Linked DNA regions of Homo sapiens. The protein of the gene in region 1 interacts with the protein of each later gene in a pairwise test. Each region holds a gene or a part of one and is shown in the gene's direction. Other genes may lie near its edges.

The links.
Region 2: the proteins of SLC38A1 (region 1) and RPRM interact in binary tests that used the Homo sapiens proteins (3 or more experiments, as listed by UniProt).
Region 3: the proteins of SLC38A1 (region 1) and PGRMC2 interact in binary tests that used the Homo sapiens proteins (3 or more experiments, as listed by UniProt).
Region 4: the proteins of SLC38A1 (region 1) and BMP10 interact in binary tests that used the Homo sapiens proteins (3 or more experiments, as listed by UniProt).

Annotation. Positions count from the first base shown.
Region 1 is NC_000012.12:46,258,095-46,266,439, reverse strand, and holds part of SLC38A1 (sodium-coupled neutral amino acid symporter 1), read left to right. Parts: intron 1-8,345. UniProt on the Homo sapiens protein: Symporter that cotransports short-chain neutral amino acids and sodium ions from the extraccellular to the intracellular side of the cell membrane. The transport is elctrogenic, pH dependent and driven by the Na(+) electrochemical gradient.
Region 2 is NC_000002.12:153,476,161-153,483,685, reverse strand, and holds RPRM (protein reprimo), read left to right. Parts: upstream 1-4,923; 5' UTR 4,924-5,120; coding exon 5,121-5,450; 3' UTR 5,451-6,348; downstream 6,349-7,525. UniProt on the Homo sapiens protein: May be involved in the regulation of p53-dependent G2 arrest of the cell cycle. Seems to induce cell cycle arrest by inhibiting CDK1 activity and nuclear translocation of the CDC2 cyclin B1 complex.
Region 3 is NC_000004.12:128,270,460-128,278,804, reverse strand, and holds part of PGRMC2 (membrane-associated progesterone receptor component 2), read left to right. Parts: intron 1-6,287; coding exon 6,288-6,443; intron 6,444-7,391; coding exon 7,392-7,489; 3' UTR 7,490-8,345. UniProt on the Homo sapiens protein: Required for the maintenance of uterine histoarchitecture and normal female reproductive lifespan. May serve as a universal non-classical progesterone receptor in the uterus.
Region 4 is NC_000002.12:68,867,745-68,876,007, reverse strand, and holds the start of BMP10 (bone morphogenetic protein 10 preproprotein), read left to right. Parts: upstream 1-4,610; 5' UTR 4,611-4,649; coding exon 4,650-4,983; intron 4,984-8,263. UniProt on the Homo sapiens protein: Required for maintaining the proliferative activity of embryonic cardiomyocytes by preventing premature activation of the negative cell cycle regulator CDKN1C/p57KIP and maintaining the required expression levels of cardiogenic factors such as MEF2C and NKX2-5.

The DNA of each region.
Region 1 (8,345 bases):
ATTGCACTCTTCTTTGACTGTAATATAATTGAACAGATAGATGAATAGATTTTAAAGGTGTTTTGGAGCTTTAAACCTATATGTATGTTGTTTATGTATATTTTTTATGATGCTTCATGAATTAAGGCCATTTAATGAAAGGAGCACCATGTTTCTGATATCTGACTATTGCTACTCTTTTCTTTACTCTGGGTGATGCTTGTGGACAAAAACCGATTTTACTCATTGTTCCTCTAATGTCCAGCACATAGTACCTGCTTAATAAATACTTGTTGGATCGAGACCTTGAGACCTTGATCAGGCCATCTTGTTCATCTCTTTGTGATATTATTGGCCATCCCTTCCGTTCTATATCTCATCTGTTCCCCTTCTCCTAAGTTTGAAAATGAGAGTCTTTTTCTTCTCTGCTTCTCCTTCTCGTACTGCCCTTCCCACTTTGAGCAGTGACCAGGCCCTTGAAAATACCCCTCACACTTGTCCTCTTGTCTCCATTTCCACTGCCCAAGTTCAGGTCCCTGTCACCTTACCTAGACTTGGAGACATATGAAACAGATATAGAGGTGCCTTGAACAACCTAGGGGCAGTGGGAGTGGGCGGTGGAGAAAAATGCAAGCACAACATATGGTTAAGAGTGAAACAGCCAGTTACTGAGGTGGAACAGCTTTCCTGTTGGTCTCTCCTCCATATCAAGTTATGCTCCCCTAATTAAATCTCCATTCTTTCATGAGGTTTATATTTCTAAAATTCAGTTCACATTTTGTTAAAGGACCTTGCTTTTAAAAACCTCTGAGGGTTTCCATTGCACACAAATACAGTCTAAATTCCTTAGCCATACACTTAGGACCCTTCACAATCTGCCTTCTCATCTCTTTCCAATTTTTTCTCTTGATATTTTCTTTCTCACAGTTCACCCTATTCCCTCCCTATCACTTTTCTGCTTCAATATCTGTGTGGATTGGATTCCAGTCCAGAATGCCTACTGAAATCCTGTGTACTTGTGATGGCCTATCCCTGATGCCACTTTTCCACCTCTTGGGAGAAGTGTTCACTGATCACCTCACTGGCATTTTCATAAGTATTTGTTTATCCTTCACATTTTGGACTGTTGTTACTCCAGGTGATGGAAGGTGGTGAATAGGGGCTTAGGCTCTGAGTCAAATATAAATATCAGGCCTCAGCTTACTCACCCAGGAATCTTGGGCAAGGTGTTTGGCATCTCTAAGCCTCAGTTTTTTCTTTTGCTAAATGGGAATGATGATGCTGGTGGTAGTGTTGGTGGTACCCACTTTACTGAGTGATGGTAAAGATTTAATGAAGATAATGAATGTGAAGTATTTGGTATAGTGTTAGCATTCCATATGTATTGAATTAAACATATCTACCAGAGGAGGGAGAGAAAGTTGATCAGTAAAGTTCCCTTTACCTCTGAAATTCTGTGACTATGTAATCTTTTAAAAATACTTTTCTGAAAATATATCTTGATGGAAACTACCTGGATCTTTTTAGTCTCTGGGAGAATATACATCTATGAAAGGTGGTGAGGAGGTAGGAGAAGTATGTGCACAGAAGTACTTTGAAGAATGTGTGACAGACTTCGAAAAAGACATCTTGTATGCAAAGGCACACAGAGTAATATAATGGACTGTGGAGACTCAGAAGCCAGAGGTTGGAAGGGAGGATGCCAGATAAAAAGCTACAGATTGGGTACAATGTGTACTACTCAGATGACAAGTGCACTAAAGTCTCAGATTTCATCACTTTCAATTCATTTATATAACCACCAAAAATCACTGATACCCCAAAATCTATTGAAATAAAAAAATTTTAAGTAAAATTAAAAGATTAACTTCAATAACCTAAAAAAAGACACTGACCCTAGATTTAAAATAAGATTTTAAATTTAAAAATATTGTTGTACTTATTTCTGAAAATTGATCACATATTTGTTTTCTAGTGATAACCTTACTAATAACAGAGGAGTTCCCCTAACCATGTTACCTTCCCAATCACTGAATTCCTCTACTATTAGTAAGTAACTCTGTTTCAAGTGAGGTTACAATGTGTCTTTGGCAATAACTAGCTGGGTACCCTTGAGCAACTCATTTCACATTTTTATGCCTCATTTTCTCATCTGTCCAATGCTAATAATAGTATCAGTGCTGCGTACCTCAGAGTTGTGAAGATACAATGAGAGCAGAGCTGAGAAAGTCCTTGAACAAGTTTAAAAAAACTATTCAAGATGATAGTCATCTGGCATTAAGCATGCTGCTAATCTTCAGGGTCAGGTGATGGTTTTAGATTAGTGAGTCTCAGAGCAGACTTCACATTAGACTCATCTAGGGTGTTTTAAAAGCTGTCAGTGCCAAGACTTCAACTCCAGAGATTCAGATTTAGTTGGCCTGGGATGGAGCCCAAATATGGGAGCTTAGAAAATATCAGGGGTGATTTTGATATGCATTGGTTTAGATTTAAAGCAAGGAAAACAAAACAAACATCAGAAATTAAATGAGGACCTCCATATGTTGCTTGACAAAGTCTTAGTCTTAGTAGTGTGAAATTATGAGCTTGACTGACTTTTCCCCCTGATTTTACTAAACCAACCATTTGTTGACATCATGGAGCCACAGCCTCAGGTTACAGTTTATAACCTGAATTTTCCCAGGCATAGACGCCTGTCCAGTGATACAGCCAGAGCCACATGAAGATTTAATGTGTAGATCTCAGTTTCCATCTCTTAGGAATGGCGAAGGTTGGAAAAGAAAGCGACAATGGAAAGGAAAAAGAAAGGGATAGGCTATGGACCAAGGTATAGGAGAAAGAGGCTCTGAGCAGGAGACAGACAGGTCAGAGCACAGAGAAAACACTGTGTTTAATTTATTGAACCGGTTTTGTTTAGGTTGCAAACTGGTGGCTAGAGAGCCAAATTAAGCTTGTGGGCATATTTTATGTGACTTACGCTTTCTTTTAAAATTATTTGAAATTAGTTGCCAACTCTTAAATATCAGAATTTCACTTAGAATTTTGATTTCTGGCATTTATTGAAAAACATAAAAATAAAAAGACCAGGCTCATTCCTGCCACTAGTTGGAGGGAAATAGATGGGACATGTGTTCTCTAGTTCCTTATGCCCAGTCTGCTTTGCCCATTTATCTTACCTACCTGAGCACTAGCTTCTTTTGTTTTAACTTTTATTCTCAATCTGGGGATCTTAACATTGGCTGCACATAAGAATGCTCTCCTCTGGAGAGCGTTTAAAATAACCATGCTTGGATCCTGTCCTATACCAATTAAGTCAGAGACTGTTGTGTGTGTAGTGTCCCCTTATCACTTTTATTTTTTTAAAGCTCCCCAGTTTGTTCCAATGTCCTGTTAGAACTGAGGCCTATTGGCCTACAAAGGCAACTATTCAAGAGATTTGTCTACAAGTCCACCTTCTTATCTTTGGAAGTGATTCATTAAGAAATAGTGTATAGAATCATTAATTCAGAGAACTGGGAGAGGTCTTTGAGAGAGCAGCCATTAATCCAATCTTCTTATTTTAAGGTGAGGAGACAGAGACCCAGAGAGGAGAAAGGAATTGTTCTGAGACTGTAACCATCATCTGGTATTGAATTATATAGTGTCTTTTATTACATTTTCTCTTTTCAAATAAAAGTCTATTTTTAAGATTTCTTTTTATAAATGATCCTCTTTATATGCAGCACTTTGTGATGCTTTAAAGTTCTTATTATTTCTGTTTTTCCTTGAGTATTTTGTTAGGAGTCATAACTTAGCTAGGGCTTAAAAACAAACACACAAAACTGTATCCATCTTTTTTAGTACAATAGCAATCCTTGATCAGAAATATCTTTAGAACAAAAAACATATATGCAAATAAAGAGATTTTTCTCAAGGGCTGAAATATTCCAGGCTGTTTTCAACTGCATGAGTTTTTAGTAATTATTTAAATCCATTAATTTTCAATTGACAAGAAATATTTTTAATTTTGTTGGTATTCACACTACTCATATACACTCACTGTTCTAATTAATTAAGATTCAATTCTTTTGGTGTTTTTTTTTTAAATGTAATATACAGTCTGTCCTCCTATATCCAGTTATAGGTTGACTTCATTAACTTTAGAGTTTATTTTTTCTGTCTTGAATAAATTGGAATTGTTTCAAAATTTCTGATATAGATAGGTTAGTTACCAACATCATAAGCTGGTCATGTTGATAACAGACATTTAAAAGATCATATGGGAACTTGAAGACAAGAGGAATTATGGAACGATTAAGAGCAGGTTTTGGGATCCTGTTAAGATAGGATGCACTGGGCAATTTGTCCAAGGAAGTTAGCGGTTCATCTCCATGCCCCACAAAGAGGGGGTCCATACTCATCCCCTGTGAGCTTCTGTAACACAGGGCTTCTTGCCCTTCACACTACTGGCATTTGGGGCCAGACAGCTCTTTGTTGTGTGTGGCTGTCCTGTGCATTGTATGATGTTTACCAGCATCCCTGGTCTTTCTCAACTAGATGCCTGCAGCACCCCCTCACTTACTGCAACCCAAAATGTCTCCAGGCATTGCCAAATACCTCCTGGGGGCAGGGAGAGGGACACAATTGTCCCCAGTTGAGAACCACTTCTTTAATACAACTCCTTCTCTGGACTTTTAGAAATCATGCCAAGAATTCTTAAACATTCCAAGCATAGTGGCTGGGACAGTAATGATAAATACCTTCCGTTTATATAGTTCTTTACAATACTAAATGCATTTTTACATAAATCCCACACGCCCAGATCAAATGTAAAGGAGATCAGGTGGTAAACTTAATGAAAACTATGAGGTAGGGCTATCCACATTGCTTCATGTTCCCATTTTTGTTTTGTTTTCCATGGGAAGATGGTGTTTGTGATGCTCACTGAATATATTGTCTGCAGGCAGGTGATCATAGCTTTCTTTTTAAATTTAGTCCTCATTTTTATTGTTAACATGTGTTTACTGTCACCATATACTAGACCTTTGAGATGTATGGTCCTTGTCCCCAAGGAATTGAAATTGTAAATAAAAAGATTACTGAAATATGAGCCCCCTTGCTATAAGCCAGTGAGTAATCTACACGAAACTGCTGTAAGAATTCATCACAGGTAAACAGTCAAGCAGGTTCTCAACTGGAACAATTATGTCCCTCTCCCTGCCCCCAGGAGGTATTTGGCAATGCCTGCGTTGGTCATTGGAGAAAGGCATCACAGAAGAGTTGGCTTGAATTTTTTAAAAAAGCAAGCAAGCTGGGCTTTGAAAGAAAGGTCATACTTAAGTTAGCATAGGCTTCATGGGAAGGTGGAGAGGGTGTGTCCAGGATCAGGGGGATGGTGTGAACAAAGCAGAAAACTGCATAAGAGTAGACCCATTGCAGGAATGGAAAATTAGAAGGAATATAGTGGGAGCATAAATTAAAGAGAAAGCTGTCTGAGGTTCTAGAGATTAGACCTCATCCTGTAGAGGGAACAGTTATGATTGGCAAGGCAGAAAGAGGAATGTGCAAGACTGTCTTTTCAGGAAGAATCTGCCTCTATAGGTGGGAGAGGGCAAGAAGCAGGAGGTAGCGTGGCGGAGAGTGACTGTGGCAAAGTTCAGGCTGTGAAACTGTAAGGAATAAGGGAAAGGAAAAGGATTTTGTGAAGGAATGTTGGCAGGACTTGGCAACTGATTAGATATGAGGTTGTATGAAAGCCATACTCAAGTTTCAAGTCTGAGTGACAAGGAGAAGGTGCATTATATCTTTAACAGAAATAGAATGCTGGCATGTGAGGTCAGGTGATGCGTTCTGCTTCAGGCATGTGGAATCTGAGGTAATGATAAACATCCTAATGGAGCAGTCCAGAAGGCAGCAGGAGTCTGAAAAGAATTTATGGAAATGTTTCTGAGAAGGAAAGAACCTGAGAGATAACCTCTCTTTCATGCCCTCTCATTTTACAGATGAAGAAACATGTGACATGTTAAGTGGCATGATCATGATCAAGTTGTATTTATGAGGGAGATCCTATTTCATAACGCAAAGGAATTCTAGTTTTATAAAGTGAAAAAGACTGGGAAGAAAGATCTGAAAGATGCCTTTGTAGAATGAAACTTGACACTACAGCCCTGAAGCCCTAAAAAGGAAAGAATTTGGAATATGTGGAGCAAGAAGAGTCGAGGCCCAAAGAGCTACTTCTACACAGAAAGTTGGGAGGAGGAGGGATCTGGCAGAGGAGACCAAGAAGGTCTTGGGAGGATGCAGTGTGGAGTTATTTGGGAGAAGTCAGAAAACAGGAACAATGGTCACAATAATTTACAAAACCCGGGCCAGACGCTGTTCTAAGTGCTGCACATGGACCAAGTCATGGAATCTTTATGACTGTATCAGATGGGTATTGCTTTAAGTCCATTTTACAGATGAGGAAACTAAGGCAAAGAGAAGTTAACCTTCTTTCCTGGGGCTACACAGCTTCTAAGTGGTGGAGCCAGAATTTCCTAATCAGGCATGATTTCAGGGGAGTGGTGGCAGGAGCAAGTAGTTTAGAGACTGCTAGCAGTAAAGAGAGGGGTGTGATGATAGTTCAAGGTTCTAGACAGAGTTATGTTCCAGATAAAGAGCTCTGAGGATGATGGATGTCAAGAAGGGAAGGCAGAGAGAGGAAGTAGAGAAACAAGGTCCTAGCAGAAGAGCCAGGACCTTAAGCACAGGTTAAACCATTAGTCTTGGGCAAGAAGAGAGTAAAACCACTTATTTTTCTGAGACCACTTACTAGCTTCCCAGGTTTTTCACTACCAAAGGCCATTTTTATTATTCCCCACCTTCCAAAAGCCCCAGATTTTCAAAGATTTTGATGATCGGCTTTAATTTTTTATTTTAATTAAAGTATAAATTATATGCAATGCAGTGTCCAGATATTAAGTATACTATTTAATGAGTTTTGAGTGTTGACTTTAATATATTAATTCATTTCCCATTTTTATTACTCAAAGGTATATAAAATTGCCAATCAAATTTAGGATTATCACATCAAGTTAATGAAGCCTTGCTAACAGTATGGATACCTCACCATTTAGTTAACCTGTTTAGCCTGTTTGAGGCCTTTTGAAATATAGATCCATGTTAGTTCTTAGATCCTTATCACTATCATCTATGAACCCTGAGGATCCAAGAACCCCAAGTGGGTAAACAGACACAGTCAGTTATGGGACTAGCTGGCCCGGAATTATAGAACCATTGTTGACCTTAGGCTTAACACTTTCTCCGCTTTAAAAATTATATGTATTTAAGGTGTGCAACGTGATGTTTTGGTATACATATGCGTGGTAAAATGGTTACTAGAGTCAAGAAAATTAATATATCCATCATCTCACGTGGTCACTTCTTTTTTGTGGCAAGAGCACCTAGAATCCACTCTTTTAGCAAAAATCCCATATATATAATACAATATTACAGGTTGAGCATCCCTAATCCAAAAATCCAAAACCCTGGCTGGGCACAGTGGCTCACGCCTGTAATCCCAGCACTTTGGGAGGTTGAGTTAGGTGGATCATCTAAGGTTAGGAGTTCAAGACCAGCCTGGCCAACATAGTGAAACCCCATCTCCACTGAAAATATAAAAATTAGCTGGGCATGGTGGCATGTGCCTGTAATTCCAGGTACTCGGGAGGCCGAAGCAGGAGATTCTCTTGAATCTGGGAGGCGGAGGTTGCAGTGAGCAGAGATCTCATCACTACACTCCAGCCTGGGTGACAGAGTGAGATTTCATCTCAATAAATAAATAAATAAACACATTTTAAAAAGTCCAAAACCCACAAAAGTCCAAAACTTAAAACTCTGAGCACTGACACGATGCCCAAGTAGAACATTTTACATCTAACCTCCTGTGATAGGTCACAGTCAAAATGCAGTGAAAACTTTGTCTTATGCACAAAATTATTTAAAATATTATGTAAAATTGCCTTTAGGGTATGTTTGTAAGGTGTATATGAAACAAATGAATTTCAAGTTTGCACTTGGGTCTCGTCCCCAGGATATCTCATAATATGTATGCAAATATTCCAAAATCCAAAAAATCAAAAATCTGAACTACTTCTGTCAGAGGCATGTGAACCAGAGCAACTCCATCTTAAATAGGAGCTGAGTAAAATGAGGCTGAGAGCCACTGAGCTGCGTTTCCAGATGGTTAAAGCATTCTAAGTCACAGAATGAGATAAGAGGTTAGCACAAAGTACAGGTTGTAAAGACCTTAATGATAAAACAGGTTGCAGTAAAGAAGATGGCTAAAACCCACCAAAACCAAGATGATGATGAGAGTGACCTCTGGTCGTCCTCACTGCTACACTCCC
Region 2 (7,525 bases), on another chromosome or scaffold:
CCAGCTCTTTGGGAGGCCAAGGTAGGTGGATCACCTGAGGTCGGGAGTTCAGGACCAGCCTGACCAACATGGATAAACCCCGTCTCTACTAAAAATACAAAATTAGCTGGGCATGGTGCCTCATACCTGTAATCCCAGCTACTCAGGAAGCAGAGGCAGGAGAATTGCTTGAACCCTGGAGGCAGAGGTTGCGGTGAGCTGAGATTGCGCCATTGCACTCCAGCCTGGGCAACAGAGTAAAACTCCGTATCAAAAAAAAAAAAAAAAAAAAAAAAGAATTTTATTCCTTTTTAAGGCGGAATAATATTCCATTTATGTAAATACCACAGTTTGTTTATCACTTCATTTGTTGATGGACGTTTGGGTTGCTTCCACCTTTTGGCCATTGTGAACAATGCTGTTATGAACAGTAATATACATATCCCTGTTTAAGTACATGATTTCAATGTTGAGGGGTATATACCTAGAAGTGGAATTGCTGGATTATGTGGTAATTTTATGTTTAATTTTTTGAGGAACCACCATAATGTTTTTCACAATGGCTGTACCATTTTACATGCCCACCAGCAATGCACGAGGGTTCCAATTTCTCCACATCCTTAGCATTTTTTACTCACCAAGGTCAACCATTTTATATGGAAATCTTTCTAAAATGTTTCACTCACTTTCCAGACTTCTTAGAAGAAAACTATTGAATAAAATTTAATGGCTTTTTTCATTTAATGACTTATGCATATTGATGTCCACCTCAGGAACTATTGCAATATATCTGTATTTGAGATCTTGCTATGTGCTAGGTACTGTTTTCCAGTTGTTTCCATAGAATAGATCAATCCTTTCAAAATTCTGTAAAGTGTTATCCCCATTTAACAGATAAGTAAATGAGGTACATAGAGGATTTAAAAAAAAAAAAAAAGGCTGGGTGCGTTGGCTACGCCTGTAATCCTAGCACTTTGGGAGGCCAAGGCAGGCTGATCACCTGAGGTTAGGGTTTTGAGACAAGCCTGGCCAACATGGCAAAAGCCTGTCTCTACCAAAAATATAAAAAATTAGTCAGGTGTGGTGGTGCATGTCTGTAAGCCCAGCTCCTCAGGAGGCTGAGGCAGGAGAATCGCTTGAACCTGGGAGGCGGAGGTTGCAATGAGCCCAGATCGTGCCACTGCAGTCCAGCCTGGGCAACAGAGCGAGACACCATCTCAAAAAACAAAAACAAAAACAAAAAACATGCCCAAGATTACATGGTTGTAAGTAAAGACAACAGGATTGAAAGCCATGCCTTTATGTAGTCTACTTGCCATTTAGACTGCTTGTCTCTATATTAAATGTCTCCAAACTATTACTTAATACTCTTAGAAAGTCTGTGTATGCTGTTTAACATTCTGTTTTTTCCTTCTGTTGTTACTCTTTGTGGTTGTAAAAGCACCTACCCCCTAGCCATTTCCTCCTCTTCAGAACACATGTTGATACTGATATCCTGTCATTAAGAAAAATAGACAAAGAAGTGAGTTAAAACTGTGAAAAATCAAAGTCGTAGGTTCTGAGAAAGAATTTGGGGAGGGATAATCTAAGGGTGAAATATATGAGCTTAGGTATTTAGCTTTTACGACATTTATTTTGGTGGTTCAATAAACTATTTTGCTTATTTCTGGCTTTTTTCTTATGTTTTGGCTATGGAATCTGCTATTATGAGTGGCTTCTGAATTTGAGTTCTTACTCTTACTCCTGCTTACATTGTGTAATATAATGTAATTTATTTTTTAAAAAGCTTGCCCCAAAGCAATAAATATCCTTTCAATGTTTGATATTTCCTTTTTTAAAATATCTGCTTAATATTTTCATAATGTACAAAAAGAGAAAATCAAAAATCTTTTGGCATTGAGTATCTGGTCCTACTTCAAGGCTATTCAAACTATAAATTACAGCAACCATCCATATCAGCATTCTGTAAAAATACCTTTACAGAATGCATTATAGGCCAAGGATATATTTTCCAGAAAGAGTAGGCAGTGTTTCTGTCCTTGTGTAACATGTATGTTATAAAATACTGGGCCTTTAACTCTCATAAAATCACACCTACCTATTTCCAATGAAGTAGAAGAGGACACTAGTTAAATAAATACAGCAGTTAGTCTTTCTCAGTATCAAAAATCTTTGCTTTAAAGTGAATTACCAGTATGCTCCCTGCATACCATATGTTCATCCATTTTTCTGGAAATTAAGTTTTTCAATGTCAACATTTCTTAAAGATTTCTTTTTTCACACTTGTGAGATTCTCCTAAGAAACAGGTGAATAAAAGGAGAAAAACTGAAATTGTTCACTGAAAATTCAAAAGGAAAAGATAAATAAAAGGGATTCTGTAAAACATAAAGATTTCTCTAGCAACACAGATCCCCTTAAGTCAATTAATGAATGAATAATAAATATAATTTTTGTATGACTAAGTTTATAATTAATTTCCATCTATATGTTCTAAGTAATTTTATTAAACAAAATCAGAGTGGAGGGAAAATAAGGGAAACAATCCCAAGATTGTCTTGAACAAAACCAGAGAGCTGAACTAGCTGATGGGGGAAATACCTATTACCTTGTCAACAATTTTGTGACTAATTAGTCCTTAAACCTGAGAGAAAAGATCCCACCCAAAGATTTGATTAAATATAAAAACTCTCCTGACTCCAAGGTTTGATCATTTTAACACTGACCTGACGAAAACAGCAATACTGTTCCTAGCAATAAATATACTCAAATTCTGATAATGATTCAACTAACACTTTTAGCATCCTTCCATATTGGATCTTACAAATGTACTATAAACTAACTCTTGGTTTTTGTCACATAAAGAAGGGGCTCTCCATTTGCTTACACCTAACTTCTACTGAACACACAGTTCTGTACAACTTGATCCCTGGAGGTGGGCCTCTGTTCTCTGACCTTTTATTTTTCTAAATTTCTATTACTTTTCTCTACCATTCATCTCAGGATGACTTTATATTGCCTTAAATTTGTTGTAATTTTTTCCATGTATACATTACGTTTTATTATTCTTGAGGACTACCCACATTAACTAAGATAGACTGATTGTATGATGAGATTTAAGTAAATTCTTACTTATCAATTATTAATAAATTTCTTCAAAGAAGAAATTGCCGAGAGTGAGGTATTTTTCAATTCTAATTAAATTATGGGAAACTAGAACAATAAGCCAGTGAATTGTGGTAGAAGCCCAAGCCTGAATTTTCAGCTGTTAAACATCCCCCTCAAAATAATAATAGCTATTTTAAAAAATCAAACTTATTGCAGCTGATATACCATAAATATCAAAAAATTGAAAACTCAACCAGAAGGCATTTCATTCTATTTTATGATAGTCATGAAGCAGTGCAAAAACATTTAAGGAACACTCTGAAGATGGAATAAATGATGTTTTAAGAAACAGAAATAAGAGGATTTACCAAGCAAACAGAATGAAATTAAGAGTAGAGTTGAAAATGGCAAGACAGCTACTATTTTTCAGTTTTATTTTATTTTTAATTGACAACTGTACATATTTATGAGGTACAAAGTGATATTTTGATACACATATACATGTGGAATGATCAAATCAGAGTAATTAGCGTACCCATTATCTCAAATTTTTATCAGTTCTTTGTGGTGAGAACATTTAATAGAAAGTAAATGTATTCTATTGGAAGCTCAAGTTACTGGTTTCCAGCTGTTACAGCTGAAAGAAAGAGGGAGGAAGGCAGGGAGTAATGGGGAAAAGGAGGGAGGGGAAAGAAAACAGAAAAGGGGGAGCGGGAACATGCAATATTCTTTCAGAGTTAAGAAACTTAATCTGACAGGTTTATAGAATTTCGTTGGAACCTAGAGCAAAATCACAATGGCTGAAGCGTCAATCAGGCCTATAAAAACATCTGTGTTTAGTTTAAATGACTAAGGGTGAAATACATCAGCTTATGGAAAATGGGGAGGGCTCCCAGTATTTGGCCAGCGTTCTAGGTGATGGATGTTGATGAGCAATTCCCTTCAACAACTGATTTACTGCCAACGGACAAAATGCTGGAAGCACATCCAAAAACTTATCTGCAATTAAAATTACAAGCAAGTGGTCACTCTGTTCACCTCCTTTACCAGAGAGGTGACCCTGCTCCCGGCAACTACCTCCACCCAAGGGCCACAGAAGAACTCCTCCTTCCTCTAACCCTCTTTCCTTGGCCTCAAACCTCACGGTAAAACCTGCCTTGCTCTGTCTCCCAATCGCTTTTGTAAAGGAAGCTGGGTGTAGAGCTCTTCTTTCTCCCTCCCTTCCTTTTTTCTTTCCTTCCTTCCTTTCTTCCTTCCTTCTTCCATGCCTTTCTGTCTTTCCAAATTCATTGCTTTGTAAGAAACATTCTCAGATCACCTCCACTCCACTAGAAATCCAACGCAGGCGAGTCGGAGTCAAGCACAGGCAGTGGGCGGGTGGCCTCAGCCGGCACCATCTGGCACCTGCGATTCATCGCCACTTTCCATTCGCCCAGAGGTCAGGGGGGCAGCAGGCAAAGGACACGCAGAGCTCGTGTGTCCCAGTTCCTCTGAAACTTTCAGCTGACCGCACCCTCCCCCGACAAACTCTTTAATCATCCATCAAGCTAGAAGAGTACAGTGACCTCTGCCTGGCCTTTGGAGTTTGCAAAAGAAGCAAGCAATAAAAAGCAAGACCAGGTTCGCCCCTTTGCTTCCTCCACCTCCCAAGAGCAGCGCGCAGCGCGGCGGTGCGGCCGGAAGGGGCCGCTGTTTGCTCAGCGCAGCCACCCCGCCGCTGCAGCCGCCGCGGCCCGCACCTCCCACGGCCGGGCTGGTCCAGCCCCGCCAAGTTCCAACAGCCCCCCCTCGAGCGAGCGCCGGGAACGAGCACCACCAGGGCTGGAGCGGACGGCTTTAGAAGAGCCTAGCTGCTGCGCGCGTCGGAGAGGCTCCTGGGAAACTCCCACGGCCCAGGGACTTTCGAAAGCAGAGCGAGGAGCCCTCGCACGCGCTAGTCTGCGAGTGAGCGCTCAGCCCGGCACCTGTTCCTCCAGCGCCGCCGCCTTCCCACCCCTCGGACCCGCGCCGCTCGCGGCGCCCGCCCGTTCCTGCGATGAATCCGGCCCTAGGCAACCAGACGGACGTGGCGGGCCTGTTCCTGGCCAACAGCAGCGAGGCGCTGGAGCGAGCCGTGCGCTGCTGCACCCAGGCGTCCGTGGTGACCGACGACGGCTTCGCGGAGGGAGGCCCGGACGAGCGTAGCCTGTACATAATGCGCGTGGTGCAGATCGCGGTCATGTGCGTGCTCTCACTCACCGTGGTCTTCGGCATCTTCTTCCTCGGCTGCAATCTGCTCATCAAGTCCGAGGGCATGATCAACTTCCTCGTGAAGGACCGGAGGCCGTCTAAGGAGGTGGAGGCGGTGGTCGTGGGGCCCTACTGACCCGCCCTCTGCCCCCGCGGCAACCGCTCCCACGCCTGCCCACTTTGCTAGCCCGGCTGTGCCCCTCACTATCAGAGACTGGGCGAAGCAAACCTGTCGGAGTCAATTATTTCTCTCGACTTCGGCCTTTCGGAAAGAAGCGACCGGTTTCTCCCTCGCCCTCTGAAAGTCCTCATGCCTGGCAGTCGGAGGAGAGCGCCCAGACTCTGAACTCAGCAGAAAGTGGCAAGAAGAGGGCGATTAGGGCGCAGAACTTTGGAAGCTGCTACTTACTTGGAATGCGGGGAGACCGACGGTGCGAAGGCCCTTCTCCACCCGCAGGTGGGCCAAGCTCTGGGGGCAGGTGGAGAGGGCGGGCAGGGGAGAGACCCAGCGGCACTGATCGCCTTGTGACCGGAAGAGTGACCTGTTAAAAGCCACGCAGCAGACTCATGGGGTCTCACAAATCCGTGTCCGGGTGCGCTCCCACTCTTCTCCTGCTCCCCCCCTGCCCTGGAGGGGAGGGGCGATAAATACCTTTGATTGTAACGTGCCGTTTTAAGAGGTTTTGTGTTTGTTTGCTTGAATACAAATGTTTGATAAGTCTTTTTCTGCCCCAGTGGCCTGTTTGCCTGCCTGAGGAGTTACAGTTTTGTCATTGTGGGAGAAGGGGTGGGGGGAGGGGGAGCCTGCGAATTTGAACGGGGTGAGTTGTTTCTTTTAGTGCATTTCCCACTGGGTCTTTTGGGAGGCGTCTAGCGTTCCTGCTGGCCCTGGGACAAAGACCCAGAATAGAACTCGTAGCTCGTGACTGCACGGTTTACGCCACAAAAGTGCTCTTGACATCCGTGACACCGTTTTGACTTTTTGTTTTTTTCTTATTTAACATTTCCTTAATAAATGCAACATTTAAGCGTTTTGTTCCTGGCCTCCTGGTGGTCATTCTGCGCTCCCCAGCAGGGGGGAACGGGGCGGCGGTGAGGAGTCTGGCTCCCGGCCAGGGCAATTAACCCTGGAGAGCTGCGATTCAACTTGTGGATCCCCTGGAGGGGCGAGGGTGGGGCCAGACGGAGAGGCCCTGGGATGACTGAGAAGGAGCCCAGCCTCAGGCACAGTAGCCGTCCTGGAGGCAGCATCCTTTGTTTCCTCTTATCGTGAATATTTTATATTTCATTTAGTCTCAGCTCTCAGGTAGGCGAGACGACAGAAGGGCCCCCGCGGGAAGATTACACTTCCGTGCCAGGCTCCGGCGGGAACACAGGATTACACCGCTAATGAAAGGAAGAGACGGCTTGGACAGCCTTTAGGGAGGGCGTCTCTACCCTAACCAACGTCAGCCAGGCGGCTTTGGGATGCTGCCCACGGGTGGGGCCGGGGGGCGGAGGGAAGGGGAATTATAAAATGCGAGGAAAAGTAGCTGCTAAGGTACACAGTGACGTTAGTGACGTTAATGCTCCCTAGGGTAAACCATTGTTACTAAAACATGAGATGCATTACTGTCGTTGTGATATTACTTTTTCTAGCAAAAAGACCACGTTAAAAGATTCAGCCTGTTCTTTGTAATTTAGTATGCCCCAGACCAGGCAAAGGGTTGAGAGGAGTTAGCCGAGGTCCTGAATGTGGGAGATGAGTATTACAACCCCAACTGGGAAGGATATTTGGAGTAGAACTACAGATGGCCGTTGACACATTTAAGGTTCAGAAATTCAACAGTGTTAGAAAGAAACGCCTAAAAACCGTGCCTGTGAAAATAACCCAAAGGATACAATAGCTTCGAGCATAAACTTGACAAAAGGTTTTGAGCAGTTTATTTTTATGCCTGAGACAGGATCCTAAATATTTTCAAGACTATAAAGAATCCACTAGGATGCTATATAGCAATTAAAATTTCAAAGACTTCACAATGGCAGCTATAAGAGTAACTAAAATCAAATAATAATAAAGTGTTCCATTTACTCAGAAAGAAGCACAACTGGTGTAAACAATGTTAACGACTCAAAGATTGGGATCAAAAGTTTTGAGTGCCTTTAATGTCATATCCACTATTAAGTGTCCATTTCGCTCTCAAGTAAACCTTGTTAGAAATCACAACCTAG
Region 3 (8,345 bases), on another chromosome or scaffold:
TTGAACCACACAAAGTTTTGGTTTTATGTATTCAAATTTATCTTTTCTTTTATAGCTGCTAAGTTATGTATTATATTTAAAGACTTTATGCACTTAAAATTGTTTTTAAAAATCTGTAGTTTTTTTAGTACTTCTGTGGTCTCAGTTTTTTAGTTCCATTTGAAATTGATTTTGCTTTAAGATGTGAAATTAGAGTCCAAATTTGGTGGGGTGGTGGGTGTTTGTTTGTTTTTGAGAAGGAATCTTGCTCTGTCACCCAGGCTAGAGTGCAGTGGCGCCATCTCGGCTCACTGCAACCTGCGTATCCCGGGTTCAAGCGATTCTCCTGCCTCAGCCTCTTGAGTAACCGGGATTACAGGCGCCCACCACCGTGCCCGGCTAATTTTTATATTTTTAGTATAAGAGACAGGGTTTCACCATCTTGGCCAGGTTGGTCTCAAACTCCTGACCTCGTGATCTACCCGCCTTGGCCTCCCAAGGGGTTGTGTTTTTTAACAGAAGGTTATCTAGTTGTCCCAACATGTTTCCCCAACAGGGGAATAATCCCTTTTTCCTAATACTTGAAGTATTATCTTTAGTGTTCATTAATTCTTATAGATATTTGAGTTCATACTATTTTTTCACCTTGGAATTTTCATTCTGCATGGGTTGCATAAACTCAGGCCCCACTCCCATAAGTGGCACGGGCCTGGGCTTTTAATTTTTCTGTCTTTTCTTTACCCCAGCCTACCCATGCACCCTGGAGTTAAGGCCATATGCTCAGTTCACAATGTTGCTGAGCGCTTTTGACAGTAGCTCAAATTTCAGAAGCAAGATTGCACTTTCAGTCACTTATAGAATCATACTATTCAAGAGATTATTTAGTTTGGTCTCAACTTCAGGCAGGTAAAATAATTTTCCTAATTTATATTTGAGGGATCTAAGGACTATGGAAATCGAGACTTGTTGATTGTGAGTGGATCCTCTAGAACCCAAGTATCTGTCTTCTTGAGAGGTATTATTTCAGTTTTACCATACTGCATTCTCTCTAAAAGTCTTGGGACTTACTGGACCTAAGCATAAAAAAATTTATTAGTTCAGTTAATCACTTTTACATATTGCCTCATTTGTTGATAGGCTGATTATAATCTTATTTGAAATAAATTACCCAATACTAAGTGTTATTAGTTACTCAATTTATAATCACAAAAGATTATTGTCAAAACAGGCCTGAAAACTGCACTGTTGATAAACTTTAATTAATTAAAGTTCATCTCTGAGAGATATGGTTTTTAAACTGTGAGAATAATTAAAATATCCCTTTAGAAACACTAAGGTAGCTATATAATCATCCTAATAATCACAAAATTATCTGTTACTACATATTTACTTCCTCCTGGAATTTTCTGTTTATTAAATTAATATTTAAAACATTTTACAATGAGCATATGTTGTTGCTGTTTCAAGAATATGTCACCTCATTCTAACTGATTGTATTAAAGTAAGCAGTTTTAGGATACGGTAACAAATAGGTTTATTGAACTTTAAAATATCTTGACCACAAGTTGGATTGACACTGAAAACTAAATGAAATCTGAATTCTGACTAGTATAGTACTTCATGTTGGGTTTGTTTTGTTTGTTTGTTTGTTTGTTTGTTTGTTTGTTTTGAGATGGAGTCTCGCTCTGTCGCCTAGGCTGGTGTGCAGTGGCGAGATCTCAGCTCACTGCAAGCTCTGCCTCCCAGGTTCACGCCATTCTCCTGCCTCAGCCTCCCAAGTAGCTGGGACTACAGGTGCCCACTACCATGCCCGACTAATTTTTTGTATTTTTTAGTAGATACTGGGTTTCACCACGTTGGCCAGGATGGTCACGATCTCCTGACCTCGTGATCCGCCTGCCTCTTGTTGGTATATTTAACAATAGCTTTGAAATAAAATTTATCTTTAAAATGATGTCCTTGAATATTTGTTATGTAAGTATATTTCAGAGTATTTGCTTTGACTGAATAATGCTGTTCATTTTTTGTAGCACGAATTTGCTTAAAATTGGGAGGCTGTTTTTGGATCAGCATTATATTTTAATATTTGATAAAGCAACAGAATTTAATTCTTCTAGTTACTACTGAACTGTTAGTGTCTAAATGAGCCTTAATAATAAAAAATAACCAGATCATGTAAACTAGCCTTTTTAAAAATAAATTAGGCTGGGCACAGTGGCTCATGCCTGTAATCCCAGCACTGTGGGAGGTTGAGGTAGGCGGATCACCTGAGGTCAGGAGTTCAAGACCAGCCTGTCCACCATATATGGTGAAACCCCCTCTCTACCAAAAATATAAAAATTAGCTGGGCGTGGTGCCACACCCAATAATCCCAGCTACTTGGGAGGCTGAGTGAGGCAGGAGAATCACTTAAACCTAGGAGGCAGAGGTTGCAGTGAGTTGAGATCACACCACAGAGTGTGACTCTGTCTCAAAAAAAAATACTAATACAAATAAATAAATTATACCATGCAACAGACTTAAACCATTTCAAATTGGCTTTATTTGGGGAGCTCCCTATTGTTTTAGTATTATGAATAGCCAAGTATACTTACCAAATATTAGAATTGGTAAATATTTAGGTTTTTTATGTAAGGGGATAACGGAATGGGAAGGTATTGCTGACTTTTCAGATAAGCTCCTGGTTGTATTATGAATGCAGGGAAATCTCCTTTTATTAGACATCAAATCCTTCCTCAGAATAACCCATCCAGTTCCAACTTTAGTTCCTAATGTTATATTCTTTAATGGCCTTACAGAAGGCTGGGCATGGTGGCTTAGGCCTGTAATTCTAACACTTTGGGAGGCAAAGGCAGGAGGATTGCTTGAGGCCAGGAGTTCAAGATCAGCTGGGCAACATAGGGAGACCTTGTCTCTACAAAAAATAAAAGAAATTATGCAGGCCTGGTGGGCCATGCTTCTAGTCCCAGCTATTTGGGAGGTTAGGGCAGGAGGATTACTTGAGCCCAGGAAGTAGAGGCCACAGTGAAATATGATTGAGCCGCTGTACTCCAGCCTGGGTGACAGAGTAAGACCCTGTCTCAAAAAACAACAAAAAAAATTTTTTTAATGGTCTTACAGGAAAGAGCATAGAAAATTATTACTAAAAAGACCTTTGCAGAAGTTAAATGCTTCCTGAGGGAAATTCTAAACATATGGAGAAGACAGCTTAATATAGTTTAGGGAGTGGGGGAATATGTTAATCACTGAATTATTCTTTTCTATTCAAGAGTCAACAGAACATCATTTGTCTGGAATTTGGCTTGGATTATTAACTGTTGACTCAAGTTCACTCTTACCAAGTCAATCATTCCCTACCCCCAGTACCCCAGAAAGAGCATATTTTATGAAATTTTTTATTATTATTATTCATTCAGTGTTGAAGCTTTCTTAGGGAAGTTGGTAGAGAAATTAATAGAGAATGCACTGGTATATATTAATATACTCAAAGATGGAGGGCTTTCTGATTGCTGTTTTTATAATGATTTTATCTTCTCTCCTTTGTATCATTTAAATGTGTTTTATGGCTTATACTCTGAAGTGCCTGAAGTAGATTAATGTTTGCAGGCCATGGAGATAAATACTATAATAGAATGCTTAGAAAAGCTATTAAGTAGAGCTTTTTTGTTAATTCTCTTCCATTTTGATTTAATAAGTATTCTAAAATTTTCATTCCCTTGAAATTTTGTAAGTAGTAAAATGCTCCAGTTTTCATGGTCGTTACTCCATCTTTGGGCTTGTGAGTCTTCTATGTGTTTTCTTGAGGTACACTGGAGGATTTAGGAAAGTGGAAATAGTACTCTCAGTTCTGTCAGTAATTTTAGGCAAATCACACTGAATGCCTCCGCTCCTGTTTTTTATCTGCCAAATGGGGAAGGCAGTCTGTCCCTTCCACTTTGGGAAACTCTGAGAGAGAAAAGTGAGGTTGCTGGAAAATTCTTTTAAAAATTGAACCTATAATTTTCCATTTGTAGATTGTTATGGCCTTTATTAGTTTTATTTTTCCTTTTGTATGTTTCACTTTTTGCTTTTTTAAGTTTATAAGCATTGGTCTAGTCAGCATTAAGGGTAAATATAATGTTTATAGATTTTTTTTATCATTGTTTCTTAGAAATTTTTATTTTTAAACACACTAGTTCTCTGTCTCTGTCTCTCTCCTTGTCCTCCTGAAAACACCCATTGCCACAAAGTGTGTAGAATTTTGCACGCACATGTGCATGTACACACACAGACATAACTGGTTAATACCTTTTTTTTTTTTTTTTTTTTTTCTTTGGAGAAGGAGTCTTGCTTTCTCGGCCAGGCCGTAGTGCAGTGGCATGATCTCAACTCACTGCAACCTCCGTCTCCTGGATTCAAGCAATTCTCCTGCCTCAGACTCCTGAGTAGCTGGGATTACAGGCGTGCGCCACCACAGCCGGCTAATTTTTGTAGTTTTAGTAGAGATGAGGTTTCACCATGTTGGCCAGGCTGGTCTCAAACTGCTGACCTCAACACTGCTGCCACAGAGTTGGGATTACAGGCATGAGCCACCGCACCTGGCCTGGTTAATACCCTTTTGAATGTCAGTTGAGATGATAGAAAAAGTTTGAAGGTTACGAATATTGGCCAGTGGTAAATTGTGTTCCATATTCTTATATAGAAGACACATTTGAAAGTATAAAATGGTAGCCTATGTTAATAAGACTGATTAAATAAATTACAGGTACACATCCATTCAGTGGGATAATATATAACCATTCAATGATAAATAATTGTTGATAGTCATGTGATACGATGTAGCAATATGGAAAATGCAATAAGAATAAGAAAAGCAGAATACAAATGTACTTTACTGGAACTGTTAGCTTTACTTTCATGTTACTGTATCAATACCTATGAATGCTACTCTTAAAATTATTGCTAATGCTACTTCTAGTTCCATGCAGTAAACTTTTCAGAGAATGAATTTCACATCTGGTTAACTTTATAGTACAGTGCTGTTAGCAACTCAAATTAATACTCATAAATGCTTAGATATCTATTTAAGTGAAACCTCGATTTCTACTCTCAGAAGGTACAGAGACTTTTTGACACATAACTTTCAGTTTCCTAAATACTTTTATATATGAATATAATCATTTCGCTCATTTAAAAATCAAGGAATTTCTAGTTTTTTCTGCTTGTTTACTTATCAGAACATACTTTGTTCTTTTATTTATAAGCCCTGTTTTTCACCACTCTGTTGTTGTTGTTCATAATAGTGTCTTTGCCTACCATAAGTGAATCTGTTTACAGAATCTTGAGTTTCTTTTTATTCGGAACTACAGCTAAGTCATTTGGAAGAAAATTATTACGTTCCTACTTTATGCCAGGCACAGTGCTAGGCATTGAGGATACAAATCCTCAATTGATGAACAAATTGCTGTTCTCAAGGACAAACCTTGGGAATGGTTTTTGTCAACACATCAGTCATGCCATTTCTCCTCAGAGAGAATGGTACCCAATTCCTTGGATAAAATGCTAATTATTGCTTAATGTGTCAGTCCAGAAGAATTATTCCTTATAGCTACTTCCTCTGTTTTCCAAAAGTCATGACAAGTAAGAGCTATTATTTTCCTTAATGACTTTTCCTAGTTTATATAGATCATTGTATATATATTATGGTAGTCAGATGATTTATTTTGAATATGGGTCTTTTTTTATTAAACCACTCAGCAAAGATTTATTAAATGCGTGTTGAGCACTGAACTAGTCACTGGGACCACAAAGATGATACAGTCTCTTTTCTCATAGAATTACAACCTTCATAAGGATAGCAGAAAGAAAAATGTTACAGATTCAAGTTCAGCTGAGTCTTTACATAATACATGATGTTCTGTTGATTATTTTTATTTTTTTGATGCCACTATTAACAGCAACCAGTAAACATTATTTCCCCTCAAGCAGACTGGCTTCTAAACCTAACCACTTAAGTTTCTTCTTCTCCCTCATTACCTCACAGTCTTCATTTTGAATATTAAGTTTGGGGATATCTGAAGTAATTGAAATTGAGGGTTTTAAGATCTAAGTGAAAAGCTTTACTTGGGTCAAAAGGCAGATTTCCAACAAATTTCTTTTCTTATTCCATCTAGTATCTGTACATGTTTTGAAATTAAGGGTATATACAAATGTGAATTATGAGGGGTTTTTTTCTTTGTTGTGTTTTTTTTTTTTTTTTTTTACTTTTTCCTTTGAGACATTCTAAAATATTGTTAGGTGATCTAAATAATTTATTTTCTTTTTTCCAGCGGGTCCATATGGAATATTTGCTGGTAGGGATGCCTCCAGAGGACTGGCCACATTTTGCCTAGATAAAGATGCACTTAGAGATGAATATGATGATCTCTCAGATTTGAATGCAGTACAAATGGAGAGTGTTCGAGAATGGGAAATGCAGTTTAAAGGTATTTTTATTTTGTTGGATTCTTTGGAAAATTAAATATTTGTTCAAAGAAAATATATACTATTTTACATGCTTTAAGAGCCTAAGGATGTCATCCGTTTTCATTGCCATCATTATTTGATAATATTTTTAAAGATAGCTAAAGCTGGGTGAAGTGGCACATGCCTGTGGTCCTAGCTGCTGATGGGAATCCCTTGAGCTCAGGAGTTCAAGGACTAACCTGGGCAACATAGTGAGACTTGTCCAAAAAAAGAAATTGCAAAAAATAGCTAAATAAAAATATGATTGTTACATGTGATAATTATTTTGAAAATCAATATTTAAAAAAATGACTTGTTACAAATTCTAAGCCTCAAAAATTGTGATACTTACAGTCAGCTTCTTCATTAAGGTTTAGTTTTTTAAAAATACAGGCTTATATTTAAAACTGAGTTGATTACTGATTTCAATACTATAATTTATTCCAAAATGATTTTACAGATCTTAACACTCGAAATGTAGATAAAAAATATCTTTCCCCTTTCTTATGCCCTCATAACATCAGTTTTTACCACTTGTGTGATGCTGTCCCAGCTGTTTATCTGACCCCTGGGTCCCTTGGAACAGCTGTTCTGGTTTAGCTGGGTACTGAGATGGGTCCTGGACTTACTCATTTTTAAAAAAGATCTCCAAGTGATTCTGATGCAGTATCCAACTAAGAATCACTGGTACAGAACACCCTCTTGCAAAGAATTCCCAAGCCTTATAAGTTCCCTAATCCTGTTTTCTTTTGTTCAGGCTTTACATGTGTATAAAGACCAGCCATGGTGAAGCAATTTTAGAATATTTAGATAATATTCTAATAATCATATTTTATATGATTCTAAAACAGACAAATGCCTTTTCTCTGTATAATGGAATAGTGAAACAAATTTGATCACCACTGATTTTCTTTTGATGTATCTTTCAGAAAAATATGATTATGTAGGCAGACTCCTAAAACCAGGAGAAGAACCATCAGAATATACAGATGAAGAAGATACCAAGGATCACAATAAACAGGATTGAACTTTGTAAACAACCAAAGTCAGGGGCCTTCAGAACTGCAATTCTTACTCCCTTTCACAGACTGTCCGGAGTCTTTGGGTTTGATTCACCTGCTGCGAAAAACATTCAACAAATTGTGTACAAGATAAATTAATCTCACTATGAAGATTTGAATAACTAGACATTATTTATGCTGCCAAACTCATTTGTTGCAGTTGTTTGTAATGTCTAGTGGGGCTTCATCATCCTGAAAAGAAGGAGACAGGGATTTTTTTAAAGAGCAAGAAAGTCACAATATTACTTCTTTCCTTCCTTTTTTCCTTCTTTCCTTTCTTCTTTCTCTTTCTTTCTTTTTAAAATATATTGAAGACAACCAGATATGTATTTGCTACTCAAGTGTACAGATCTCCTCAAGAAACATCAAGGGACTCCTGTGTCACATACTGTGTTTTTATTTTAACATGGGTGAGGGAGGCGACCTGATCAGGGGAGGTGGGGGTACACATCAATTTGAGTTGTTCAGGCTACTGAAACATTAAAATGTGAATTCCCAAACTTTTCTTTTTGGCTTTGTCAGGGAAAAGAAAAATATCTTTATAAAGAAATCTTTGGAAATTAGGAGAAGGAATTTCAGGTGGGTTTAAGTCAGAGCTAGTTCCCCAACAGAAAGATCATTTGAAACCAGTTTTTATCCCTTCTCTTTCCTTCCCTTTCCCTAAATCAAATCAATATTAATTGTGCCTTATTTCACTTAACATAGACTTGAATTATTTTTAGGGAAAGCCCCTATAATGAATTCAGAAATCACTACAAGCAGCATTAAGACTGAAGTTGGAATATTCTGTTGACCATAAAACCTTGATATCATTCTGTGTAT
Region 4 (8,263 bases), on another chromosome or scaffold:
CATATAGCTTTTAGAATCATCTTTTCAAGTTCTATGAAAAGTCCTGTTAGGATTGTGATTGACATTTTATTGAATTTATATATTGATTTGGGGATTTTTTAACATCTTTATTATATTGTCTTCTTATCCATTGACTTGGAATATTGTTACATTCATGCAAGTCTCCTTTCCTGTCCTTCAATAAATTTTTTTGCTCTTGGACACCATGCTTTACATGGGCTGTCATTTAATATAGGGTGTGGAAGCCAACACAATACTAAAACAGTGTTTCCCAGCCCAAACTATACCTTTTCTCAAGGTGATAATCTACATGCTCTGTTGCATCTCTCAGGAATGAGTGGCAGAGAAGAGCAGAAGAGAGAGCCTCCAAGACTCAACTACAGTCCCCAAAGTCAATCAGCATAAGCATTGGCAAGGATGTGGAACAACACGAACTCTTGCTGGGAGACACAGGATTGGGAAAACCATTTTCGAAAACAATTTGGCATTATGTAAAATTGTTGGAGTCTTTTCTGACTACCAACCAGCAATTCTATTCTGATATTTACTCTTACTAAATAAAGTCTAGACTTGCACTGTCCAACATGGTGGTTATTAGCCAGCACAGGCTGGAGTGCAGTGGCGTGATCTTGGCTTACTGCAACCTCTGCCTCCTGGGTTCAAGTGATTCTCCTGTCTCAGCCTCCTGAGTAGCTGGGATTACAGGTACATGCCACCATGGCTGGCTAATTTTTGTATTTTAGTAGAGACGGGGTTTCACCATGTTGGTCAGGCTGGTCTCGAGCTCCTGACCTCGTGATCCGTCCACCTCGGTCTCCCAAAGTGCTGAGATTACAGGCGTGACCCACCGCACCTGGCCGAGAATCTCTTAAATAGAAAATAACAGTAAGATTATTCACTGTAGTACTGTAAATAATGAGAAAAAAAGAAACAAAGTCTCTATCAACAGTATAACGTACAAAGAAATTTTTATGTATTTATAAAGCTGACAACAATTCAGTGAAAATCAATGAACTCAGCTACAGGCATCAACAAGTGTGCATTGGAAAAATCCTGTTGAGTGCAAAAAAGTAAGTCTTGGAAGAAAACATATAACATGATTCAATTCATATATAAGTTAAATGGGCAAAACCCATCGTATAGCTTGTTAAATTTTTTTTTTATTATCACACCTGGTCCTGAGAAGGTAGCAGGAGTAATGTAATGCTTCTGAAGTGGGATCCAAGGTAGAGAGGGTTCCAAGAACCTAGAGTCATGTTCAAAGACCTCCTGACTTCATTGGCCTCTTTTCATTCAGGATAATTTTATTGGTTGCATTTATTCAGGGGCTGTGCACTACTCACAGGAAACAGCAGAATTCATCAGGATGCTGTCCAGTGGCTCTGACCATGTCTGGATCCCAGATCCCTTTGAGAATCCAATGAAGTTCAATGTTAGATTCTTTAAGTTTGTACAGTTATGGAACTAGTTTTAAAAACTGGCCCAGAACTTTGCAAATCAGAGGTTCTGGAGCATTTTGCAGTGGGGTGGAAAAGCATAATGTGTAATTAATATTTTGCTTTCCACATGTATGGGTTCTTTTAAAACATCTAAACATACCTTTTACATCTTTGGCTCACGAAACTGCCCATCCACTCTGAATGAACCGTAACACATTCCAAATGAGAAGGATACAAAATAATGAGATAAGTGCAAAAGAATAGAATGAATTGCATCCAGAAAGATCAAAATAGGGGTAGGAATGTAAAGACATTTGGACCTTTTAGGGTCAGATGAGAGTCATCAGAAAAAGCTTCTAGAGAAAAATATGGGGATAAAGAGACTCTGCAGCTAAGATGTGAGGTGTCCCAGGCCTGGAAGAGGGAGAGAGCTTATGTCCCCTTCCTCCAAGCATGAAGCCAACCTCCTTCCTTGTCCACCCAGCACAGGTATGGGTTTAAGAACCTTCACCAAGCATGCGTCTCAAGACACGCTGATATCTTGAAATGTCTGAAATATGGCTATAGTCATTTTCCTACTGTATCTTTTAATCATCCCCAAATATCAACATGGATCCAAATATTTGACCCTGTAGTTTTTCTAACACCAAGTACAGGGAAGCCAGTGAAGTCTCAGTTAATGTTTTTATGCTCAAGAATGTAAAGAACTAGAACTCCGCAATGTGGGATGCATGTCTCTCCCCGTGACCTTTGAAACCAGTGTGCTCAGGGGTTGTAAGTACCACCACTTACACTGCTGTCCTGTGGCAGTTACACGCACATGCCTGCATTCAGAGTTTTGGAGTGTGCGTTGACATCTGTGTGTGTGTGAAGATAAATGGGTGCCTGTTTGGATGCAGGACATGATACAGGGCATTGCTGGTATGCTGTCAGAAACCTCATGTGAAAACGAACCACCCGAAGGACGGCTTCTGGCCCTTGGAGTCACTCACTCACTTGTGGGACTGTTCAGGGTATAATCTGTCTCCAGTCTACAATTGTCGTTTTACTATGGGAATAGAAAGTTTGAATCAAAATTGAACATTGAATCAAAATCAAAACTATTAAACAAATAGACAATTAACAACTACTAAACAAAATATGGTTCTTTCTATGGTAATTTAAAAAATGGCTGTAACATTGTACATTTTAGGAGGAAAAAGAATCAAAAGATGACTAGAAACCTAAGTGAGCCTGGAGAAAAAGTTAAGTGGAGACATTGTAGCTAAACGATGAGCATGAATATAGGAAAATTTAACCTAGAAACTGAGAAAGGATTCCAGTGAACCAAATATCTTGACACAGCCCTTGGAACACAGCACCAGGACGCGTGAGTAATGGTGTGCACGTCAGAAAGATACCAGAACTACCACCTCAGTGGGAAAAACATCCCCTGGGCTTGTCCGCAGGGCCTCTCTGGCTGCACCCCGGCTGCTACTGTCACTAGTTAGAATGGAAAATGTGATGAACCTGATTTGTCTTTCCTAATCTGGACACACAATCGATTCTACCATTTTTATTTTCAGGACCAAGGCATTTGGCGTTTTTTGTGTGCCTAGTAATGTTGTTTGCCGAGTGTATTAGTCAGGGTTCTCTAGAGGGACAGAACTAATAGGGGATGGAGATATATTTCTGAGTTTATTAAGTATTAACTCACACGATCACAAGGTCCCACAATAGGCTGTCTGCAAGCTAAGGATCGAGGAGAGCCAGTCCAAGTTCCCCGACTGAAGAACTTGGAGTCCCATATTCAAGGACAGGAAGCATCCAGCATGGGAGAAAGATAGGCTGAAAGTCTAGGCCAGTCTCGTCTTTTCACGTTTTTCTGCCTGCTTTATATTCTAACCGTGCTGGCGGCTGATTAGATGGTGCCTAGCTAGATTAAGGGTGGGTCTACCTTTCCCAGCCCACTGATTCAAATGTTAATCTCCTTTGGCAACACCCTCACAGACACACCCGGGATCAATACTTTGCATCCTGCAATCCAATCAAGTTGACAGTAAGTATTAACCATCACACCAAGCTTTTGCTGGAGCCTCTTGATGACAATTTTGATTGAGTCAGAAGGATGAATTTCGCAGAGATGTTGGTTATATTAACAACTCATTGCACAGATGGAGGACCTGAGGTCCACATCCAGCTACAAATTTCTGCCTGCCTCCTGCCTCCAGGCTGATCTGGGGACGTGTTGGCCTCTCAGCATTATTGCCCATGCCCTAGTCTGGTAGAAGAGTGGTTTAAAAGTGTGACTGTTTTATTCTTCATAAGAATCAGGCTGCCTTGGTTGAAATTGTGGCCCCATCACTTTGCAACTTTGTGGCCTCTGGCAAGCTATGGCACTTCACTGACCCATATATGTGATGGAGATAATGATACGGTTATTACAGGAGCACACTTGATGATAGGTGTAAAGCACTCAGTACAATGCCTGTTTGTAGGAAGCATCTAATAAATTCTAGTTGCCAGTATAACTAAGCACTTGCCCTATTTTTCAAATGCTATTTTAGCCAGATCAAATAGGTAGGAAAAAGCCTGTCAATCATGAAGTTTATACTTTCCTGTTTCTAAAAAGGTACACTTCTAAAAATTTATATAATTCATTTATAGCTATTAACTTAAACTTGGAAAGTTTGGATATTTGGTCTGTCTTCACAAGTGTTTATCTGAGCCCTACCTCTCAAATTAACATGTATCACCATTGATGTGCATTATGTTGATTCTTATACCTATTATATGCATGTGTGAAACTAAGCCCCATAAAAACAGAATTTAGGCATTCCTGCTGAAAGGAAGTGAATTGAAGGGAAGAGAAGCAGAGCCTTTGCAAAGAGAAAATTGTCCTATCTCTCAACCAGTGTCAGAATGTGGAAATGTTTACAAAATGCTCATTAAAAGAAATAGGGATTGCAAGATAGAAACAAATTCTGGTGCACAAGTTTACACTAGGGAGATAAGAAAGGCTAGGCCCCTATAGGGGATTTTGTTATCCAATTACTGCAACCTGACTTTTAGGGGGAGAGGAAGAGTGGTAGGGGGAGGGAGAGAGAGAGGAAGAGTTTCCAAACTTGTCTCCAGTGACAGGAGACATTTACGTTCCACAAGATAAAACTGCCACTTAGAGCCCAGGGAAGCTAAACCTTCCTGGCTTGGCCTAGGAGCTCGAGCGGAGTCATGGGCTCTCTGGTCCTGACACTGTGCGCTCTTTTCTGCCTGGCAGCTTACTTGGTTTCTGGCAGCCCCATCATGAACCTAGAGCAGTCTCCTCTGGAAGAAGATATGTCCCTCTTTGGTGATGTTTTCTCAGAGCAAGACGGTGTCGACTTTAACACACTGCTCCAGAGCATGAAGGATGAGTTTCTTAAGACACTAAACCTCTCTGACATCCCCACGCAGGATTCAGCCAAGGTGGACCCACCAGAGTACATGTTGGAACTCTACAACAAATTTGCAACAGATCGGACCTCCATGCCCTCTGCCAACATCATTAGGAGTTTCAAGAATGAAGGTAAGTTTTTGCTGATGAAATTTTGCTAGGATTTTTTTCAAGACACAATAAGTAAATTTACAATGCATGGGAATGATATAGGTAAGGGTAAATACATCTATATAAGGATGTTAAATACATATGGATACACAAAAACAAGGCACATTTTGTTCTATACCAATTATATAGTCATTTCAGGAACCTCGAAAAATACTTACAAACATCTTTTAATCCAAAGCCACAAAACATCTATCAATTTGACATCATAATTGGGTCCTTTTAAAAAATGTTAATTTGAACACCAAGTAATACAAAGAATTAATGTTGGTCTACTGCCGTACCTTTGTCATTTTCCAAATAGGCCTTGATTGCCATATGGGCTTTTAATTAACTAAAAAATTTCTCAACTTCTACTTAGAATAAAAAGGGTAAAAACAGTCAAAAAACATCAAATTGTGATTTGTGTTTTGTTCAAACTTTTGATAAGTTTTTATTTTGTGACCTTATTTAAGAAATGTTCAAACAGGATGGAAATATATTTTAAAGATTCTTCCTAAGGCTGTGTTGTTTGATGTGTCATGTACATCCTTAAAGCACTGTTTACAGTTTCCAGGAAGTGTAGATGGCCCATTAATCATCCAGCTCATCATTTCCGTCTTTATAAAGAGCAACGTACAAGCTTTGAATTATTGGTGGGAAAAGTGTGTTTTCTTCTCTTAGGTCTTTAAATTTGGTAACTAAATCTAATGAGCTAGCAAGTTAATGTTTTTGTTTGTTTGTTTGTTTGTTTGTTTTTTGGTTAATATGGTCCTAGTAGGAAAAAAAACCCCTGATATCTAGATATCTATAGTAGAAGCTGAAGGTCCAAAGGAACTAATTTAATTTTTGCCAGTTATGCTTTTATAGTCACTAACCAGGTATAAAAGAAGCTTCCCGTTAATATTGGCCAGATGTTCTTGAAAGAAGAAAGGTAATAGTGAAGAAATAGCTCAGGATTTGGGATTTTGAGAGCTAGTTGGCTTAGTGGTTGTGAATAATTAGCTGATGCCTCAGAGCCTCAATTTCCTCATCTATAAAGTGGGAGTAATAATACCTACATAACATAGTTGAGTGACTCAAAGGAGGTTACAGATAAGAAAGCACTCCATTTACTATGAAGTGCTGATCAAACTTTAGTGACTACTAATGAGTTACTTAATATTCTAGGTACTGGAATAAATGTTGAGTAGGTATTCCTTAGTCCCTAAGATATTATCTCCCTTTAAAATTGAGTTGGCTGCCAAAATTTATAATTCATAATATCTTTCTCATGGAAATGGCAAGTTGAGATTACAGATTGCTTTTGGAGGTGAGTCTGAATTGAAAATGAACAACTTCCTCCTGTAAGAACCCTCCCTAATACTTCTCAGCACTGAGCCCTAAGTGTCTGGCTCAGGGTGTGGGTGAGAAAATGTTGTTTGCATCCCCTGGAAAACTAGAAACGTTTTCCGTTCTCACTTCTCTCATAGAGTATCTGGATGATCCAGGTCAGGATGTGGAGTTTACTGTGCTTATTATTACTGGAGATTATTGAGGGCAGGAACACATCTCTTAGTAAACAACCCAGCCGCCAGCACCTCTGCCAGTCTGCAGGAAATGTGCAGCCTGAGGACAGAAATCGCACAGGACATGCCCTGTTGGCTACTATTGCCTCTCTTCTGACTCTTTGGATCTGCTTAGTGCAGCTCCCTAGGAGAGAAAGACCAAAAAAACTCCAAACCTACCCCATCTTGGGAAAAAAAAGTGCCACCTCCAAGGTGAAAAAAGCGTGCTCCTTTATCACCTTGTCATTTGGGGAAATCAGTTATCTGCATCAAGGCTTGATTTATTCTGGTGCAAAACGAGTAGAGAATCAATACCTGCATTATGGGGTCATTGTGAGAACCAGAGAAGATCATGCTTGCAAAGCACCTGGCATGAGAAATTTGTCAACAAACATTCGTTCTCTTGCCCTGAAATGTAACTCTTCCATCTATTGCTTACTGCATTTGCACATGCACAGAACTTCACAGTGAACTTACTTTTTCAAAACAGCTTTATTGAGGTATATTTGACTTATAAAAATATGACATATAAAAATATTGATGTATAAAAGTATAATCGCACATATTTAAAGTGTATAATTTGAAAGGTGTTGACATATGTAACATTCATTGAAACCATCACCACAATCAAGATCATGAATATATCCATTAAAACCAAAAGCTTCCTTGTATACTTTGTAATGCCTTCCTCCCACTACAGTGAGCTCTTATTTTATACTTTTCTCCTGGGTAGAGCAACCAGCCTACTCTTCCATGTTCCCTGTCCATGGGGAGTCAAGTCTCTTCCCTTCTTAGAGTGGAAGAATAACTCCCAAGCCCAACCCAAGAGCTTGATGATGGATTAAGGTCATATGTCACGCCCATAAATCAATTTAGTCTGGTGCCTAGAATCATCAACTAATCAATATTTTTAAAGCACTACCTCTGTTTAAGCCATCATAGTAGGATAGAGACATAGAAGGGAGTTTTGAGCCATTCAAACCAGGAGGATGGCAATCTAGTTGGGAAAATCCATTCATAAAAAGATGGCTGAAATATAAGGACGTAAATGACAAGGATCAAAGGAGATATAAAGTGATCAAATGATTTCAGAGGGGAGAGGAGGGAACTTTCAGATGAGAAGTAAGGGAGGCTTTTATAGGAGATGTCAGAGCTGGATAGGTGGAGGTGAGGTGAAAGGGCTTTCCAAGGGTCAGAAGAACATGTGAAAAGGTGAAAATTGCAGGGAAAAAAAGAGTGTTTTGACAGGTGGTAAAGATATCAATGTAGTTAAAACAGAAGGGTTTACAAATCCATTCAATTGTTCACAAATATTATTGAGTAATCACAATGTTCCATGCACTGTGGAGGACGTATGTAAGCTATGGCTGATCAGGAGGTTAAGACCCAGATATAGCTGGTCTTGAGAGCCATGCCAGGGAGTTTAAATTTATTCTGTAGGTCAGCATTTCCCACTAGCAGTGTGTAAGATTAATTTAGGTGGTACCCAAAGAAAGCTATTAATCATGTGAAATTATTGTATATTTTTCTTAGTATGGATTTTTAGCAAACACACATAAATATCACCTCAAATCTCTCCTTTAATGAATTATGTTGCTTAGGAACAGTCTAAAATAGATAATAAGTATAAAATAATTAGATCAAATTAAAGAAAAATATTAAAAGATTATAATCTGAAACAGGGACTCACCGAGATCATGAACTAAGTATAAACTTGG